Linked DNA regions of Homo sapiens: region 1 is linked to region 2. The links come from fine-mapping of genetic effects on gene expression. A gene starts in region 2. The other region holds a variant in brackets. All regions are shown on one strand. Distances are between the middles of the regions.

Region 1 (3,022 bases), 42 kb before region 2:
ATAGCAGTAGAAGTCTGCATTAAAACTAGGGGTTAATTGTTTAGTAGTTATTGTGAAGCAATGTGAGGCTCAGGAGTTTTTTTAATTAGATTTTAACAAGTACTTTCTATATGGAAATAATATTCTTAAAAAATATATTGACTCCTTAAAACTTTCCATTTAGCTGTGTTTTTAAAACCAATTTTTGTCTGGATAGAAATATAATTTGTTATTCTCAATATCTTGTGACAGCAAGGAATTAGGGCTGGAGATCTTCTTCTGAGGCATTCAGCTCTGCGGCACATGATCAGCTTCCTCCTAGGGGCCAGTCGGCAAAACAATCAGGTAAGGACTACTTTTATATCCCTAGTGGAATAGCTATGGTTTTCATAGCCGCTGTGTTTCTTTTTGTAGGTGATAAATGTTTTTAATTTCATAAAAGTCTAAGTAGTAGTACCATAGAGACTTGAAAATTCTTTGGAGTTAAATTATCTTTACAACTTCTTCATACAATTTAGTCTAATAACCCATGGAAATTACTAACTAGTGACAAAGTCATAAGAGGGAAAGGTGGATTCTGACTGGGGAGGGGGTTTCAAAAACCTTTAGGGAATAGGTGGTATTGGGGTCTTCTACTTCCTCTCTGGGGCTGTGAACAAGGCTGTCTTGGTGGTGGTTCTTTTAAGTCAGATGCTGAAAACACAGCCAGAATCCAAATGCAAAGTTGTGCTGTTATAAACTGAATGATAGTGCAGATATAATACTCTTGTTCAAATGAAAAGGAAGTTGTTTGGGTTTTTTTGTTTGTTGTCTGTTTGAGACAAGGTCTCACTCTGTCACCAGGTTTGCTGTCACCCAGATTGGAGCACAGTGGTGTAATCAGGGGTCACTGCAGCCTAGACCTTCTGGGTTTCAGTGATCCTCCCTCCTCAGCCCCCTGGTAGCTGGGACTATAGGCACATGCCACCGTGCCTGGCTAACTTTGTATTTTGTATAGAAACAGGATTTCACCATGTTGCCCAAACTGGTCTCAAACTCCTGGGCTCAAGTGATCTGCCCACCTCGGCTTACCGAGGTTGTTTTGTTAGAATAGTGTTGAATATGTCCAAAACCAACTCTCCTGTTTGAAATTGCTTTATTGCAGTGTTTCTCCCATCCATCGTATTTCTTTTATTTGATAGATTCAAAATACATGAAATGCTAACATGCAGTGGTAATAAGTACTATTTATGGAGTACTTATTATGTACTTGATACGACTGGTCACTTTATTGTGGTATACTTTTGATACTCACAGTTCATCAAAATTAAGCAGCTTCATCCCCATTCTCAGGCAAGGAGTAAAGCTCA[G/A]AGATGTTAAGTAAGTTGTCCAAGGTCACAAAGCTAATGCATTGGTGGAGCAGGGATTCAGACCCAGCTCTGCTGGTGTCAAAGCCAGAGTCTTTTCCCCTGTGTGTAAACACATTACACAGGCATTTTTCCTTTCCTGCTAAGGGAGACAGATTTTCGACTTAGGCTTCCTCTCAGCTTTCTCTTTAGTGTTAAAAAAACAAGTACTGACAGCATCACGTGCTCTGTGTGTGGATACTATGTTGAAATTTACAATATCCCTTTTCCACTTCAAACTCTTCCATATCCAAGGCCCCATTGTCACTAGCAATTAGTTTAAATTCACTATAATTCAGCTGCATGTATAATTAATACTATTTTGCATTTGTGGAGCACATTTCTACTTTTGAAAACATTTTCACTTTTAATATTTCATTTAGTCCTCAAAATCACAAAGTAGGCAGAATAGGGAGGTGGCAGGTAGCCTTACCTCTGCCAGTACATGAAGAACTCAAGATACTGTTGTGGTGAAGAACTCACTCACATTACGCGGCACAGTGAGTGGTAGAGGCAGGGCCAGACCTGCAGATCTCCAGCCTCAGAGTTTTTCCCATTATACTGAGGCACGTTGTAAGCACTCAGTACCTACAGTGAATCCATAAAGGGACTGGTTTTAGAATATGAGTTAATATAACCCTTTGAGCTGGCTTAAAACCTGTGATTTTTTTGTACCTTGACCTCTTCTGTCAAGCACTGAGAAATAATTAAAGCCCAGAATATTATGAACCAGCAAACCCTGTCCCTTCCTCTTCATATTATTTCTGACGACAACACTAACAGCCACTTTATCTTCCCTGATGACAGATACGTCGATGGAGTTCAGCACAAGCACGAGAATTTGGGAATCTTCACAATACAGTGGCGTTACTTGTTTTGCATTCAGATGTCTCATCCCAAAGGAATGTTGGTAAGCTTAACATATCTTAGAATGAAGAGATACTGAATTTGTCTAGCTTGGAGAGTAATTATATTAGCAAGTAAATGAATGTCTCTTGTTTCTCATTCGACTACTTGCTAGTTGAGGTGCACTTAAAATTTTTGTTTTAATTCATGTTAAACTTTATAATATTTTACTAGTTTGCCATAAGAGAAAGTGAGTCATCATTCATTTGGGAGAGGTGAGAGGGTATATAAGTATTTTTTTTAAAACAACTCTTTAGGATTAAAAGCTAATTCAGAGCTCATTTATCACCTTAATTTGAACCACTACTGTGTGGAAAATAGCCATGGTGTGGGCTGGAGTCTCCTAGTTTCGTGAACCTGACCGTTCTGATCTTCAGTGCAAAATGAAAATACTCAAAACATAATTCCCCAGGTATAATGAGATAATGAGATAAAGTACTTTGTAAAAACAAAGGGGATGCAGATATAAATTACATCATTGAAATATATTTGAATGTAAGATACAGTTGGTAGCATTTTCCATTTTGTCTCCCAGAACTAATAACACAGTCATCATCCAATACAGCAAAACCACAAATTGTCCTATATGATTATCCAGTGTCCTAACTTATGTGTGTACTGTTTTTATACTCTTCCTGGGTCTTGTCATGATAGTGACAACAACCATAGTAATAATACAACAAACCAGCTTTTCAGTGTTTTCTGTGTGCTGTGCTTTAAATTTATTGTGTTTAAAGCACACAGTGCTTTAA
Region 2 (2,500 bases):
GAAGCCAAGATTCAACCCCACATCTGACTCCAAGCTGGGGGACACAGAACCTCAGCCAAGTCCTGGGCTGGTAATACTTAGAAAAAGCTAGTGGTCTCGCCCCGGGAAGAAGCTTCCCACAGCCTGAGGGCCAGAAGCTGGCAGAGTTGTTGAGCAAACTCGCCCCGCACACGGTCGGCAGACAGCCAGGTGGGCTGAGGCGCCGGGCTCAGCTCCGGGGTCCCAGTACCAGGCGCACCACCTCCGGCTCCAGAGCACCAAGGGCCCTTCCCTGCCTGAGTCCTAAAGGACGCCAATGGGCCTCGAGAATACCTCCGCCCCTTCTCCCCTGCCCCTTCAGCTGGTTCTTTTCTTCGGCTGAAACAGATGGAATACTAGAGCATGAGTTCTGTGTCATAAAGAAATTGCCTCGTGCTCCCAGCATCTGCCGTCCTTCCCACCCCGCCCCTGTCTCGGGTAGGGCCTTCTCTCCAGGCCCTCCACCCTCCGCTGCCCATGTTTTCCAAACCAAATCGGAACCCACTATAATGGCAAGCCCGCTTTCTCTGTGCCTGGTGCAGTTCCCAGTACGTTCCAGGCATTCACTCCTTCACCCACCTGTGCCGCGGCGAGGCAGAAACTGGGAAATCTGGGCAGGATATCCTGGCAGTGCTCTGCTCGCCCTTCCTCGGCCTCCGGGTCTCCCAACCCCGCGAACCTTCCCACTGAATAGCGCAGCCGCACGCCCCAGCAAGTCCCCAAAGAGCCGGCCGTCCCCGCTCTCCACCGTGCTCCCCACTACCCGTCCTCCCCCGCCGCCTTGCCTGCAGTCCCCAAGATCGTGCCAAGCGAAGAGCCCTCGGCGACCTGCACTCCACTTCCTCTCTTACATGGGGGGAAACTGAGGCCCGAGAGGAAACAGCACCGCACCGTCCCGGCTGCGGGTTCGCCCCGGCCTCCCATCCCTACACCCGCACCTTGGCGCAGCGGTGGAAGGTGGCTGTGGTTCCGTGCTCGGGTGCTTCGGCCAGGCCGTCCTCCTCGGAACGCAAGGCTAGCACCAGCTCCTCGTAGTCGCCGTCCTCGTCCTCCTGCGCACGGGCGCCCGCGGGACCCAGGAGCAGCAGCAGCAGCAGCAGCAGTGGCAGCGGCCACCAGGACCGCCTGGAGCTGACGGTGCCCATGAGGGCCAGGGGAGAGGTTGCTGTCCTGGCGAGGAGACCTAGAGGCCGTGCGCGGTCCACGCCGGCGGCGCCTTGAGCCTTGCGGTGGGGAGGACTGTGCAGGAGCTGAAGTTCAGGAGCAGGGCGCGTGAAGGGGCGCGCGGAATCCTGGCTGGGAGCTGGGAGCCGCTGCTGCAACGACGCGTCCCGGCCCGCCCGAGCCAGTCTCACTGCCTGGCTCACTCCTCCAGGCTCAGACCCTGAACTGAACGGCGGCGCCCGCCTGCAACCATGAGCGCCTCGACGTCGCTGCGGAAACCTTCTAGGGTGTGGGTGCTTGACGCCTGGGGCGCGCAGATCACGCCACCAGAGCCCCATCGGACGATCCTATCTGATTAAACATTAACGGAACCCCCGGACTGGAGGATCAGGTTTCGGCCTCGCCCTCCCCAAACAGCGTCAGATTACGCGCAGAGGGAAGAAAAAACTCCCAAATCCTAACTGGGCTGGAAGGCAGGCCGGCGCCCTAGGGGCTCCTCCTCTCCCGCCTCTCACCCTGCGTGGGATGCCAGACTCCAAGTTCTGCCGGGCCCACCTTTTCAGTGTTTCCTGGGTCCACCTTGTCTCCTGCTGACCAGTGAGACTTCTGAATCAATCCTACTGTGGACTCCTCGCTGCCCACCGAATTCTTTCCACTGGCCTTAACCTGGCAGCCTTCTAAACTTAGCCTGGACCCCCTCCGGCCTCTGCCCTTTATGCACCCTGCACACTGACCTTACCAACTAGCTGCTCCTTGAAGAGATTGCTTGCTTTTGATGTCCAGCCTACATGCATTTCAAGGGATTTATACTACAAAGATTCAGGTTTTAAGTTTGCAAAGACGTCATATAGGTACATTCAGAATTCTATGGTAGGCACAAGCTCAGCTTTCCAGAAGATTCAATTTGCAAAGATTCCTTTTACACACCATGTTCAAGAAATCAACTGGACAAGCATCCAGTAAACACCTATTGTGTACCAGGCAGGAGGATGAAAAGGGGAAAGAGAGCTCCTGGCCTCAGATTGTACATGTGGCATGACATGAGGCTTGCTCTTTCTGGAAGGGCTGTCGATACTGGGAAGAAACAAAGGCGAATTTATGATCCTCCCTTGCAGATGCACAGCAGATTCCGAGTGAAATGGCCTGCTCTGAATCTAGGTGCTGGAGTCCAAAGTTGATGCTCTTTCCACTTTGTTTGCAAAGACCTCACTCCAGAGAGCCAGTGCACAAAGACAGTGCAACCAGTGGGTTGACAGTGACTCCATGAGGTAAGGTCAGAGTTATCCCCATCGAGCCCGCCATCGCAGCACAGAGTAGG

What was found. PIP is the estimated chance that this variant, and not a neighbour inherited with it, causes the effect.
Region 1: its variant is the best candidate, but not a certain one, in a credible set for the expression of PCSK9 in whole blood (GTEx, PIP 0.83).

Annotation. Positions count from the first base shown.
Region 1 is chr1:55,080,574-55,083,595 of GRCh38, reverse strand. It overlaps USP24 (ubiquitin specific peptidase 24), which reads left to right. Exons shown (of 68, transcript NM_015306.3): 58 at 232-324; 59 at 2,172-2,274. Among named protein-coding and RNA genes, the nearest start is that of PCSK9, 43 kb to the right of the region's middle. The variant G/A (reference allele first, on the strand shown) is at 1,329.
Region 2 is chr1:55,038,501-55,041,000 of GRCh38, reverse strand. It overlaps PCSK9 (proprotein convertase subtilisin/kexin type 9), which reads right to left and starts at 1,453. Exons shown (of 12, transcript NM_174936.4): 1 at 957-1,453. The coding sequence starts at 1,163.